4 linked regions of the Homo sapiens genome follow. The protein of the gene in region 1 binds, or shares a complex with, the protein of each later gene. Each region holds a gene or a part of one and is shown in the gene's direction. Other genes may lie near its edges.

The links. Proteins that work in one complex are often made in the same cells at the same time.
Region 2: SF3B1 (region 1) and MYBBP1A share a complex: the UniProt entries of both Homo sapiens proteins name them as parts of the B-WICH complex.
Region 3: SF3B1 (region 1) and DEK share a complex: the UniProt entries of both Homo sapiens proteins name them as parts of the B-WICH complex.
Region 4: SF3B1 (region 1) and SMARCA5 share a complex: the UniProt entries of both Homo sapiens proteins name them as parts of the B-WICH complex.

What each region holds. Positions count from the first base shown.
Region 1 is NC_000002.12:197,404,029-197,407,528, reverse strand, and holds part of SF3B1 (splicing factor 3B subunit 1), read left to right. Parts: intron 1-2,056; coding exon 2,057-2,254; intron 2,255-2,351; coding exon 2,352-2,453; intron 2,454-2,674; exon of another isoform or gene 2,675-2,811; intron 2,812-3,500. UniProt on the Homo sapiens protein: Component of the 17S U2 SnRNP complex of the spliceosome, a large ribonucleoprotein complex that removes introns from transcribed pre-mRNAs.
Region 2 is NC_000017.11:4,552,585-4,556,532, reverse strand, and holds the start of MYBBP1A (myb-binding protein 1A), read left to right. Parts: upstream 1-1,148; 5' UTR 1,149-1,208; coding exon 1,209-1,406; intron 1,407-1,576; coding exon 1,577-1,672; intron 1,673-2,254; coding exon 2,255-2,338; intron 2,339-2,439; coding exon 2,440-2,514; intron 2,515-2,615; coding exon 2,616-2,723; intron 2,724-3,906; coding exon 3,907-3,948. UniProt on the Homo sapiens protein: May activate or repress transcription via interactions with sequence specific DNA-binding proteins. Repression may be mediated at least in part by histone deacetylase activity (HDAC activity).
Region 3 is NC_000006.12:18,251,031-18,254,530, reverse strand, and holds part of DEK (protein DEK), read left to right. Parts: intron 1-3,500. UniProt on the Homo sapiens protein: Involved in chromatin organization.
Region 4 is NC_000004.12:143,544,702-143,548,201, forward strand, and holds part of SMARCA5 (SWI/SNF-related matrix-associated actin-dependent regulator of chromatin subfamily A member 5), read left to right. Parts: intron 1-35; coding exon 36-146; intron 147-768; coding exon 769-882; intron 883-1,223; coding exon 1,224-1,346; intron 1,347-2,074; coding exon 2,075-2,207; intron 2,208-2,683; coding exon 2,684-2,802; intron 2,803-3,226; coding exon 3,227-3,439; intron 3,440-3,500. UniProt on the Homo sapiens protein: ATPase that possesses intrinsic ATP-dependent nucleosome-remodeling activity.

The sequences.
Region 1 (3,500 bases):
GGTTTAAGCGATTCTCTTGCCTGAGTTTCCCAGGTACCTGGGATTACAGGTGTCCACCACCATGCCCGGCTCATCTTTGTATTTCTAGTAGAGACAGGGTTTCGCCATGCTGGCCAGGCTGATCTTGAACTCCTGACCTCAAGTGATCCGTCCCTCTCAGCCTCCCAAAGTGCTGGGATTACAGGCGTGAGTTACCGTGCCTGGCCTTTTTATCATATCAACCTAAAATTTATTTTGAACTATAAAATTTTCTAGGTACCTGGTACTCAGGGAGTATTTGTTAGTCTGAAGATAGTCTGTGGTCGTATAGCTGACATCATAACCAGGGGGAACCAGATAACTTTGTAAGTCATCTGATGGCCTTTACAGAGCTTTTTCTGTTAATGACTATTGATTTTTAACAGTTCATGAGTATGTTTTTTGTTGTTTTGTTTTGTTTTAGAGACAGGGTCTCACTGTGTTGCCCGTACTGGAGAGCAGTGGCGCTGACATAGCTCACTGCAGCCTTGGACTCCTGGGCTCAAGTGATCCTCCTGCCTCAGCCTCCTGAGTAGCTGGGGCTACAGGCATGCACTACCATACCTGGCTAATTTTTTTATTTTTTGTAGATACGGGAGTCTCACTGTGTTGCCAGGCTGGTCTCAAACTCCTAGGCTCAAAGTACCCACATTGGCCTCCCACACTGCTGGGGATTATAGGCATGAGCCACTGTGTCCAGCCTTGTTTTGTTTTTGATCCCCTGTTATTTGTGTTAGAGTATTTGTTTCAAGTTTGCATGAAGTTTTGCCTTAAAGCTTTTTGTAGCCTCCACATAATGCTGTGGGTATAGATAGAACTGTGGGTATAGATAGACAGAACTTACTGTTGACTGCCTGCATGTCTTTCTCAGTCGTAGTCATTGATTTCCTTAGTGTCACTAGGAGGAAAAGTCTCCCTTAGTGAATCCTACTAATAAGCAACGTCCTTACTAGTGAATATAAAAATATAGTAGACCTTTAAATCCTTAATGGCAAGTGATGCCTGTGGACTTGACATTGATTTCTCTAGGCCTCACATCTTTAGAGTATCCACTTTATCCAAAATGCTTAGTGGTCTGTGCTGGTGCAGACGTTAACTAGCAACAAAAAATATCTGTGCAAAGTACAGATAGCATCAATATAAATTTAACATAATTTAATCTTTAATAGACAAAACAATTTTAGGCTCACTGGAGAAGACGTGTATAGGTTTATTGACCTCTCCAAGAAGTTGTATTTTTTTTCTTTTACTATATATTAAATTATATAAAATAGAGATGGGGTCTTGCCATGTTGCCAAGGCTGGTCTCAAACTCCTGGGCTCAAGCGTTCCTCCCATCTCAGCCTCCCAAAGTGCTGTAATCCTGGCCTGTCCAGAAGTTGTTTTTTTTTTTTGAAGTCTGTTACCAGCTTTAAAAAAAAAAAAAAAAATTTCTTTGTGATTTTCAGCCTGCATTTTTTGAAATTTTACTCGTTTTGCAAAAGGTTTGATCAGGTGGTGTGTATTTTATAGGGCTTTGGCAAACATTTTGGTTTTAGTTTTTATGCATTTAACTAATTTTTGTAGAGTTTTACACTTAAAAGATTTTGTAGTGCAAGAATTTATGTGACATTTTAATACTAAAATATAATTTTTTATGTTTTATGCCCCATATGAGCTTATTTCCATTTTATATAAATCTTATGAAACATTATTTGCTCGACTACAGCATTTTTTGGAATTGCTGACTCAGATTTTATAATTTTCAAATTTTTAATAATTTGACATTTTGACCCACAACATGTTTGAATGTGATTAGTATTTTCTAAGCTCTTCTCTTGTGTTTCCTCAGTTCCCTACACCACGGATATAATCAGTTAGTGGATGAGAAGTATATATTTTAAGTTTCTAATTAAGATAGAAAAGCAAGATAGATGTTGTCTCCAAGCAAATAAAAACCTTATTAGCTAATAAACTAAAATATTTTAAGTGCAAATATTGTTCATTATGCTGTTTTTTAAGTTAAGAAAATCCTAAACTGTCTTATAACTTTTATTAGGTACTTCCTCCTCCAGCTGGTTATGTTCCTATTCGAACTCCAGCTCGAAAGCTGACAGCTACTCCAACACCTTTGGGTGGTATGACTGGTTTCCACATGCAAACTGAAGATCGAACTATGAAAAGTGTTAATGACCAGCCATCTGGAAATCTTCCATTTTTAAAACCTGATGATATTCAATACTTTGATAAACTATTGGTAAGTGATACTAGCAGAAATAAACTATTAATTGTGTTCCAGAATTATAAATCATAACATTTCAACTTCCCTTAACATTTTTTTCTTTTTACTATAGGTTGATGTTGATGAATCAACACTTAGTCCAGAAGAGCAAAAAGAGAGAAAAATAATGAAGTTGCTTTTAAAAATTAAGAATGGAACACCACCAATGAGAAAGGTAAGTCCCAGTTTGTTAAATTGTCATGTTTGTTGCTTATTTATTTAATTAAAAAAAATTTGTAGTTTTTGTAGAGACAGGGTTTTGCCATGTTGCCCAGGCTGGTCTCAAGTGATCCTCCTGCTTTGGCCTACCTCCCAAAGTGCTGGGATTACAGGTGTGAGGCTCTGCACCTGGCCATGTTTATATTTTTAAAAATGTTTTTAATTTTTTCACCAGGAAATGTAGACCACAAAATAGTAGTGAACTATTGGTATAGCCCGCTGTGGAGTGTGGTCTTTCCTTTACTCTCCCAAATAGCCCAAATTGGTAAAGGTTATTTAGAAAGCCTTCCCCATAAAAAATTAACTTTTGGTAGTGTTATATTTTTGTGTTTAGGAATTTATAATTACTGTCTTCATCTTTATCAAGGACATAGCATGAGGGGAAAAAATTTATGTAGTGTGAAGGATTTAACTTTTTTGCTTGTTTTTATTATTAATATTATATATATATTTTTGAGACAGGGTCTTGCTCTCTTGCCCAGGCTGGAGTGCAGTGGTGTAGTCTTGGCTCACTGCAACCTCCGCCTCTTGGGTTCAAGCAATTGTGCCTCAGCCTTCCAAGTAGCTGGGACTACAGGCGTGCACCACCACGCCCTGCTAATTTCTGTATTTTTAGTAGAAACGGGGTTTCACCATGTTGGCCAAGCTGGTCTTGAACTCCTGGCCTCAAATGATTAACCTGCCTCGGTCTCCCAAAGTGCTGGGATTACAGGTGTGAACCACCATGCCCAGCCGTTTGTTTTTATTATTATTTAAATACTCCTGGGCTCAAGAGATCCTCCTGCCTCAGTCTCCGAAAGTGTTGGGATTACAGGTGTGAGCCACCGTGCCCAGCTGGAGTTAGCACAAAATTCTTTGGTTAAAAAAGCTAATAAAAATGCTGAAAAATGAGATTCTCCTTTTTGTTCTTAAGGCCTTTAAAATATGCTTAAAGCTTGAAGATAATTAGTGAAATTATGTGAGGGATTATGTTAACACTATATGTGCCTTGGAAATGGAAGAT
Region 2 (3,948 bases), on another chromosome or scaffold:
GTAGCAGTTCCCCTCCCCTGCCATTGTAAAAGGCTTCTCTGATTTAATAGACCGTTTGATCCCACCACCTTTACCTCCCACTCCCAAGAAAATTCTTCTCCGTAATGGCACCACAATGTACCCAGTTATTTCAGTCTCAAACCTGGCATCCCCCTCATTTCCTCTCCCCCGACATCTAACTCCATCACCCACCCCACCTGCTCCACATCAGCCCAAATCTGACCTGTTCTCATTTTCCCTGGGTCCAGTCCACCACTATCTCTAAATGGTCTTCCCGTGCTTCCACCTGCGCAGACCTACAGTCCATCCCCCACACAGCAGCCAGCATCATCTTGTTAAAATGTAAATCGGATCCAGGCTTGCCCCTGCATTAAACTCACCAGTGACTTCCCATCACCCTCAGAATGAAATCCCAGCCCGGGGCCCCATGCAGCCTTGCTTCTCGCCAGCCTCAGCCCCTCCAGCCCTGGGTCTCTGTAGTTGCAAGGCTTGGGATTTCGTCCCCTTAGATCCTTGCAGGAGTACGGGGGAGGGGGGCCCTTCTTGTCACTCAGCTCTCATCCCAAATGCCACTTCCTCACAGAGGCCTTCCCTGACCAACCCCTCAAATCATTATTGGAGACCCTATTGAATAGTAATTAGCCGTGTTTTTAACGGGTGATGTATTCACGTTCCAGCACTTAAAAGCCTCCTCCTGACCCTTGCATTCCTAATTCTCTTCATAATTATGATCTTTTTAAATGCATTTGGCTCCGTGTTCCTCCACGAGAGCAGAGGCTTTGTTCCAACCGCCTAGCACGGCACGCCAGCAGGAGCCCAGTAATTGTTGAATGGCTCAATGTTCGGAGCGCAGGGGCCGCTCTGGGACGAGTCGGATCGAAGTGCTACACCTAGGTTTGTTTCCGAGATGGGCCCTTAGAAATGCCCCCCTGGGGCTCCAAAGGGGCAGATGCCACAGCCGCCAGGGCGGAGCGGGTGTGAGCAGAAGGCTGGGAAAGATGGGACGCCGCTAGGCGAGGGACTTCCGCTCAGAGCTACGGCGGAAATGCCGCTCTTTTAACTCTGGGCCGGTCTCTCTTGGTTCCCCCGCCCCTCCGGGTTCTTCCGCCTCCGAGCCGACACAAACCGGTGCGCATGCGCCGTGCCCTGACCTGGAAGCGGCTGGGGCCGGAGCACACGTGTTTCGTGTTTCGGTGAGTGTGGCGGAGATGGAGAGCCGGGATCCCGCCCAGCCGATGTCGCCTGGAGAAGCGACGCAGAGTGGCGCCCGGCCTGCCGACCGCTATGGCCTATTGAAGCACAGTCGCGAGTTCTTGGACTTCTTCTGGGACATTGCGAAGCCTGAGCAGGAGACGCGACTTGCGGCCACGGAGAAGCTGCTGGAGTATCTGCGTGGCAGGCCGAAGGTGGAGTGGCGGGGTCTGGGGCAGAGGCTGCGCATATCCCGGCAAGGAAGCGGCGGCGGGCCCAGGGAGTTGAGACTGGGGGCACGTGGTCGCGAACCTGGATGCCAGGGTGCGCGGGGGCGTGCACCTTGTTGTCACCATTGAACACGAGGGTGTGCTTGGTTCCGCAGGGGTCCGAGATGAAATATGCCCTGAAGCGTCTAATCACGGGACTCGGGGTCGGGCGAGAAACAGCCCGGCCCTGCTACAGTTTGGCCCTGGCACAGGTGAGGTGGTGCTCCTGGCAGGGTCCCAGCCATCCAGGTCAAAATGGTGGGGTATGAGGAGGGCGGGTGTGGTGTCTCAGCTGTGGCGGAGGGGCAGCCCGAGAGAGAGGTCGGGAGTGGCAGAGCAGACTGGAGGCCAACCTGAGGGAGGCCTCTTCATGAAAGTGGAGAAGGTGTGAGCAAGGCCTGGCCAGGTTTTCTATTTGGTGCTTGGGTTGCCCGGCCTCTTAGGTACACTTTCTGGGAGCAGTGAGCGCTGGGTGGGCTCCCTTAGGCCTGCAGAGGCATTCAGCTGATTGGAGTAGACCACTCTCTGAGGCGCCTTGACAAGGGGCAGAGCAATAAAGACCCAGGCCTGCAGGATCAGCCTGAGGGGAGCTCAGACCACGTGCGGAGAGAAGACCCAGTGGCTGAGCATTTCAGACTAGTAATCTAGGGGCCATAGAAGGTACATAGAAGGTGGGACTAGGGACCTGAGGCTTCTTGGGAGAAGTTGAAGGGGGAAGGGAGGTTAAGGTTTGTGAAGACGTAGTTGGGCCACTCTCCTGAACCCTCTTCCTCCTGCCACACAACTCCTGGCAGCTGTTACAGTCTTTTGAAGACCTCCCCTTGTGCAGCATCCTGCAGCAGATACAAGAAAAATATGACCTGCATCAGGTGAAGAAGGTGAGAGTGGGGCCAGGGAGGTCAGCAGCCCCAGGGGTGGGAGGCTTGGGGAATGGGGAGTTCCAGGGCCCCTCATGCCTGTGCCTGGAATCCTTTTCTAGGCAATGCTGAGACCTGCTCTCTTTGCAAACCTGTTTGGAGTGCTCGCCCTCTTTCAGTCAGGTCGGCTGGTGAAGGTAAGAGCTTTGGAGGGACTGGGGGAATGTAGGCTGGCTTGGGATGGGTGGGGGACAGTCGTGTGCCCTGCTCATACCCTCTGTCCCTCTGTGGGGACCAGGACCAGGAGGCACTGATGAAGTCGGTGAAGCTGCTGCAGGCCCTGGCCCAGTACCAAAACCACTTGCAGGAGCAGCCCCGGAAGGCCCTGGTGGACATCCTCTCCGAGGTATGAGCTCCCCAGCTGTGCGGGCCCAGGCAACACTTTGTTACAGAGACATCAAGGGGGCTCGGATGAGAATCTGGAACAGCACTGTTCCATAGAAATACAAAGATGTATAATTTGAAGCGTTTCAGTGACTTTGTTGAAAAGGTAAAAAGAAACAGGTGTCATTTAGTAACATTTAGTGACATTTGACTTTATCTGGTATATCTAAAATATTATTTCAGTGTGCATTGGTATAAAAAAGTGTTGAGATATCTTACACTCTTTTTGTCAGGTGTCTCCAAAATCCAGTGTGTATGTTACACTTAGGCACACCCCTGTTCAGATTAGCCACCTTTCAGGCGCTCAGCAGCCCTGTGTGGCTGTGGCTACCGTATTGGGCAGTGCAGCTCTGGAACTGTGCCTGGCACGTGGCAAGTATATAAAACGTTTGCCATTGTTATCCTGGTCAAGGCTGGCCCCTTGTGGGCCTCCACTGCCCTACTTGGGAAGGTAGCACCCTAGGCCCTTTTGTCACCGAAGAGAAAGGCAGGGGTAGCAGGTCTCCAGGCCAGGGCTTACTGTGCAGTCTTGACCTCAGAGCCAGAAGGACCTGAATTCGAATCCCAGCTCTCCACCTAGGGCTCCTCGTGTATGAAATGAGCTAGTACTCTGAAATACCAAAAAAAGGAATAATTAAAAGGGTAGCTTTGACCGGGCATGGTGGCTCACGCCTGTAATCCCAGAACTTTGGGAGGCCGAGGTGGGCAGATCACTTGAGGTCAGGAGTTCAAGACCAGCCTGGCCAACATGGTGAAACCCCATCTCTACTAAAAATACAAAAATTAGCTGGGTGTGATGGCGCACACCTTTAATCCCACCTGAGGCAGGAGAATTGCTTCAACCTGGGAGGCGGAGGTTGCAGTGAGCCAAGATCACACCACTATACTCAGCCTGGGTGGCAAAGTGAGACTCTGTCTTAAAAAAAAAAAATAAGGGGTGGGGGGCAGGTACCTCCAGGGGCCAGTTAGCGTCAGTGGGATGCTTGTCAAAAACCCCGCTGCCTGGGAATTTGAGTTTTGTTAGCAACTGGCCTCTGATGACTCTGATACCTCACCAGGTGGCCCCGTGTCAGGAGCAGGTAGAACAGGATCCACCAGGCTCACCCCGCAGAGGAAGTCACGATTTCTTCTCCCTCCATCCTTAGGTCTCGAAGGCCACATTGCAGGAGATCCTGCCGGAGGTCCTC
Region 3 (3,500 bases), on another chromosome or scaffold:
GAAAAATTTTTATTTTAAAATGTTAAAAATAATATTTTCTAGGAAAAATAACTTTTCAAAAGAATGAAAGAGTGGCATTTTATGTTTTTGTACATCTGTTTAATGTCTGGCTTAAGAGAAAACAGCTTGATTACCATTTGCTTCTGCATTCAGTCTTTTTGTGTTGTTGTTGTTGTTACTGTTGTTGTTACTGTTGTTTTGAGACAGATTCTCACTCTGTTGCCCAGGCTAGAGTGCAGTGGCACAATCTCTGCTCACTGCAACCACTGTCTCCCAGGTTCAAGCAATTCTTCTGCCTCAGTCTCTACAGTAGCTGGGATTATAGGCGTGTGCCACCATACCTGGCTAATTTTTGTCTTTTTAATAGAGACGGGGTTTTGCCATGTTGGCCAGGCTGGTCTCGAACTCCTGACCTCAGGTGATCTGACCGCCTCGGCCTCCCAGAGTGCTGGGATTACAGGCGTGAGCTACCGTGCCTGGCCGCATTCAGTCTTTTGCAATGTATTGTTTTGTTTAAAATCTATGAAGGGCCTGATGCAGTAGCTTATGCCTGTAATCCCTGCCCTTTGGGAGGCCGAGGCAGGTGGATCACTTGAGCTCAGGAGTTCAAGACCAGCCTGGGTGACAGAGTGAGACTGTCTCAAGAAGAAATTAGCCAGGCGCTGAGGCACGCTCGTGTAATCCCAGCCACTTGGGAGGCTGAGGTGGAAGCCTGAACTCAGGAGGTCAGTGCTGCAGTGAGCTATTTTCATGCCACTGCATTCCATCCTAGGTGACAGAATGAGATCCTCTCTCAAAATAATAAGTATATGAAGAAAACCGAGCCTCACATAAAAAGAATATTTTTAAAGTCTTTTTAGATAATTGTGTATATTCTCTTTTTGATACCATACAATACCAAAACTCTACATAAGTTGTAGTTTCCTAAAGATTAGTTGTAATGTTTAATGTAGGTCTGAAACCAGGTTAATTAACTTGGGTCTTGTATGTATAGTTTTGTAACATGCATTTACCGCTTGTAAATATTGGTTCCCTGAATTATGTCTTCCAAATGTTGACGTTTTATTGAACACTGTCATTAAATCATGCTCATTAATATAAATATCATCTCATCAGAAAAATTACTTAGGCCTTGGTAAACTATCAAGTTCACAGTAGTAGATGTGAATTTTCCAGAATTCTAGTTCCCACTTGAAATCATAACGTTTATCATTGGCGATAAATGCTCTCAGTTTTCCTTGAAGTGACAAGCTCACCTTGTTCATGTTTGAAAACATCTCTATCAAATACCTAAGTCTGAGTTAGCCATATTTGTTCTTTTAAAAAGTGGTGTTCTCTGGGAGGTGAAGCTTGCAGTAAGCCGAGATCGTGCTGCTGCACTCCAGCCTGGGCGACAGAGCGAGACTGTCTCAAAAAAAAAAAAAAAATGTGGGGTTCTATGAAAAAGGAGCTTGGAGCGTGTTTAGCTCACAACTCAGATACACAAATGCTTTTCCTTCAGAAAACCATTGAACTTCAGTTGTAGCCATATTTATGTATATCTTCCATTTTGTCACAGATATTAGAAAGACATGTACTTGAGAGTTAACACAGTATTTATTGTTTTATCAAGGACATTATTAAGTGAAACCATTTGCCTTGTTTGTTTCTGCTGGTGTGTGGTTGTGAGGAATACAGTGACTAATATATGTTGCTTCCTTGATTAGTACTAAGGTGCCATCAATTTTACCCACCTTTGCTTTCCTTTGCTTTTGCAATTAGTACAAATGTCAACACAGTGAAAAGAGCAGATAAATAGTGTTGCTATTATTATGAAAATAGTTTCTACCTCGGAGACTCCGAAAAAGGTCTCAGGAAACCCCAAAGTCCTTGAACCACACTGTGAGAATCTGTTTTTTCTTGTCATATAGAATCTTAACTCTTATGTCAGTTTTTCATATGTGATTCTGTGATGATTACTCCTTAATCTGATAGTATCGAGCTCAGGCTATTTTCTTTTTTTTTTTTTTTTTTTTTTTTTTGGAGACAGCGTTTTACTCTGTTGCCTAGACTGGAGTGTTGTGGTACAATCATGGCTCAATGCAACCTTGACCTCCTGGGCTCAGGTGATCCTCTCACCTCAGCCACCCAAGTAACTGGGACTATAGGTGTATGCTACCATGTGTGGCTAAATTTTACATTTTCTTAGAGACAAGGGCTCACTATATTGTCCAAGATGGTCACAAACTCCTGAGCTCATGTGATCCTCTCACCTTGGCCTCCCAAAGTGTTGGGATTACAGGCATGAGCCACTATGTCTGGCCTAGAGCTATTTTCTATGCTACAAGAAGTTTCCTTTTTCTCCTCTTTAACAATTTCTCAATGGTTTAATCAACACAACATTAATCATTGATTGCTTTCCTATCCTTCTATTGTACTTTACCTTATTTTATTTGTTAATCAGATTTTGTTTCCAAAAAGAGATAATGCTGTTGACACTGGATTTTGATTAATAGATTTAACTATTTTTGGAGTAGTATAGGAAAACTCTAAGGCATTTGTATATTACTACTTTTTGGATTTTGGTTTTAAAACTCCTCGTTTACTTTTGGGAATTGCATTTTTTTTTTTATTGGCTGCTTGAATAACTTAACATCTTTTCACTTTCCTGGATAGATTTATCCAGAACCTGTTTCAGTCCTCATACTAATAATTCGATATACAGATTACATCCTTGCTACCTGTGTCTGGTTTCTGAGCTGAGATTGTGAGGGATATTATGTTTTTCTAATACATTTGAGACCTGGAGATCATGTAACAAGTAGTAAGAGCTTGGACAGTGAGAGTTACCTTTTCTCCAAACGGTGCTATCAAAGAATTTATCCACATGGATTAAGGTTCTGATAATAGTTGTTAATGGTAGTATCTCACATAGCAAGGATATGTGTATGCATTCACGATTTCTTATAGAGAATCTTCTCTGAGAAATGTCTTTGATCCACCAACTTCAAGTTCCTGGAGTGACCTAATTTTGCTGTTTCCTAGTGTGCCTTTAGAAGGGTACGTTGTTGGAGCAATCTAGGTTATCCTGTGGTTTCTTTGCAGAGAGCTCAAGAGTACCATATTATACAAAGCAGCCACTTTTTCTTAATTTTTGTGTAGGTGACAGTGACCCCTAGACTGGAGGTTCCTGGGAGGTAAAGGACCTGTCGTTCTAGTCTCTGCAAGAAAAATATTGCCTAAAGTTATCACAAACATTTACACAATTGGATACCTTAAGGTTATGTTATGGAATTTTACCTTAATGTTTCTGCTTATTGCAGAAAATAAAGTAACAAAGGTAGAAATAAAAGAATATAAAAGATGCTCAATCCCAGAAATAAATATTAATTCTGTAATGCGCATTTTAACATTCTTGATGTTAGGTAATTTTATGGTTTTCAATTTTAGAATTTAGCAAAACTTCCTTGAGAAAGCACTTAAAAATTAAATTTATTGTTTACTGTAATCAACTCATTTTC
Region 4 (3,500 bases), on another chromosome or scaffold:
AAAGTTGGTGATTTGAGTTGTTTCCCATGTGCTAGATTGCATTCACAGAGTGGATTGAACCACCTAAACGAGAAAGAAAAGCCAACTATGCCGTTGATGCATATTTCAGGGAAGCTCTTCGTGTTAGTGAACCTAAAGCACCCAAGGTGAGTTGACTGACACAGCATAAAAATATCTAAAAATTTTGAAAATGTAATTTTTTTCATATATTCTTGCAAAAAGATTGATAATTAGATTTTGTGTTTCTTTTTTTTTTTTTTTTTTGAGACAGAGTCTCACTCTGTTACCAGGAGTTCAGTGGTGCGATCTCAGCTCACTGCAACCTCCGCCTCCCGGGTTCAAGCAATTCTCCTGCCTCACCCTTCCGAGTAGCTGGGACTACAGGCACCCACCACCACCCCTGGCTAATTTTTGTAATTTTAGTAGTGATGGGGTTTCACCATGTTGGCCAGGATGGTCTTGATCTCTTGACCTCATGATCCGCCCACCTTGGTCTCCCAAAGTATTGGGATTACAGGCGTGAGCCACTGCCTCTTTCCTACATTTTGCATTTCTTTAGAGTGTACTCTCTTCTGTTTTTAGTTAACATTTTTCAAAAATTAATTTTGAATCTGTGCATTTAAAATTAAGATATAAATTCAGTTTTATTGAAAGATGCATTCAGTTGCTTGCAGAATTGGCTGTTGTGGTTTATGAAGTGAGGACTAAGGATACATTTAAAATGAAATTTCTTTTTTATGGATAACACTTATTTTTGTTTTTCTTTAGGCTCCTCGACCTCCAAAACAACCCAATGTTCAGGATTTCCAGTTCTTTCCTCCACGTTTATTTGAATTACTGGAAAAAGAAATTCTGTTTTACAGAAAAACTATTGGGTACAAGGTAATTGAAATTATCTGCCTTTCTGTTCATTCCTATCCAGAAATTATGGAAGGTATAAACATTAGTTATAAATATTTATCTAATTTGGACCTAGTGTGAAACAATACTGCTTTAGCCTAGTCTAGTTGTATGTATGAAATACATAAACTTGGGTCTGTTTTTCTTTAACAAGAAAAAATAAGACTTCATGACCAATCTGGTTTGTTTTTAACATAATACATGCAATGTATCAGTATATTTTCTTTCCTGGTTGAATTGAAACTTGTGAAATGTCAGTTAGTTGGTTCATCACATGCTCTTTAAAATTTACTGATTTGATGGCATAGAAAAATATCTTTTAGGTACCTCGAAATCCTGAGCTGCCTAATGCAGCACAGGCACAAAAAGAAGAACAGCTTAAAATTGATGAAGCTGAATCCCTTAATGATGAAGAGTTAGAGGAAAAAGAGAAGCTTCTAACACAGGTATAGCCTTTAATCAGTACAAACTTTAGTAACAGTTTGTTGTAAAGGACTGTGTTAGGTTATGTTGGGGCATAAAAATAAATACAAGTTTCTGCTTTTAAAGATGGAATAATTGGAGACAATAAAGTATGGGCATGTGGATAAATGCTCCATCTGATTGTCACTAGTTGAGGTAGTTGAGAAGACTACAGATTTTATTACTCTGGCTCGGTAGAGTGGGTATCTTTTTTATCACCTTACTTTGAATGTTCCCGTCTTTCCTATGAATTTTCCACATTGCTACCCAGTCACCATTTTCAACTATAAATCTTGGCTTGGTTATTTTTTAAACATCCTTTGGTGTTCATCAAGGTCTTTCAGAATCTGGCCTTTGACTTACCTTTAAAGCTTCATTTTCCTTCCATTTTTCTACTTGCTCATATTTTTGCCCTTTATGTTATTCACTCTTTCTGGCCAACTGCTAGTAATCCTTCAAAGCTCAGTGAAACTGTCACCTTTTCATACAGTATTCCTTACTCTCAGCCACTCATATTTAATTGCTTGGGTATTTGAGCAATATATAATGTGTTGTCAAAAGTGTATATTTATGTACACGAAAAGTTACCACTCTAAAAGAACTTAATAAACTAGTGAAAATTTGTTTTTGTAATATTTAGAAGGTTTGCTAATAGCATGTTTTCCAAGTTTAATGTGCTGTGATTAAATATTTTGTTTCTGTTCCTGTGAAGGGATTTACCAATTGGAATAAGAGAGATTTTAACCAGTTTATCAAAGCTAATGAGAAGTGGGGTCGTGATGATATTGAAAATATAGCAAGAGAAGTAGAAGGCAAAACTCCAGAAGAAGTCATTGAATATTCAGGTAATTCTTTTAAGCAGGCTGTTGGAGTTTAGTAAGAGCTGTTGGAAGGTTCTTGTTTTCTTATTCTGAATTATGTTGTGATTAGCTAATTTTGTCACAGTGTAGTTAGTACCTTCTTCATTATTTTTTACAAATTAGAAAATGTTCTGTTTCCAGAAATGGCGTAATGGTTTCCTTTTTAAAAATTTTTTAACCCTAGCTAACTCTAGCGACAGCAAAGAAAATCAGAATAAGTCACTGGATAATTGCCCTTGCATTTTTATCTTAATTTCTCTGCATAACTTCAAGTATTATGTGTTGTGTTTCCTGAAGTCAGTTGTATTATTAGGTTAACATGTGAGGGTATGCTGTGGTGAGTCTGCTTAGAATAGCAGAAATTTAAGAATTAGAAGATAAATAATCCAGTTGATCCCATTTTTTTTACATTAAAGAAATAAAAATATAAATGATTTGTTTACTTTGTCCAACTTTTACAGCTGTGTTTTGGGAAAGGTGCAACGAGCTCCAGGACATAGAGAAGATTATGGCTCAGATTGAAAGGGGAGAGGCGAGAATTCAAAGAAGAATAAGCATCAAGAAAGCACTTGACACAAAGGTAATTTGCTTGTTAATAAGTTAGGTAGTTAATAAAATAACTCCTAGCTGTGAGTATGAGAGAGTGACTTTTTATAAAGGAAAAGAAGTAAGGGTTTACAATTTAAAATTTCTTCAGAGTAGCATTCAAACATGGTATTGTCAGCAGAATTTACCTATACACTAGACTGATAGATCTGAGTCAAAGACACTAAGATTAGCTTTTTACTAAGTAGAATCAGGAAGTCTTAGTCTGTATTTCTCTTTATAATAATAAAGACTATAAAGGTCTTTCGGGACAAAGATTATATAAAGCAATTGAAGTGCTCTAGATAGAAAATTCTGATTTGAAATGCAACATTTTAGCTAATTATACTAAAGCTGAGTTTGAAATACAGATTATATAGGATTTGTATTTTATATAATATAAAATCTGACTTTCATAGATTGGACGGTACAAAGCACCTTTTCATCAGCTGAGAATATCATATGGTACTAACAAAGGAAAAAACTATACTGAAGAAGAAGATCGTTTTCTGATTTGTATGCTTCACAAACTTGGATTTGACAAAGAAAATGTTTATGATGAATTGCGACAGTGTATTCGCAACTCTCCTCAGTTCAGATTTGACTGGTTTCTTAAGTCCAGAACTGCAATGGTGAGTGCTCAGGGCTTTTTTGTGTAATGTAGCAGAGTTCAGAGTAAGTGTCATCTTTGGT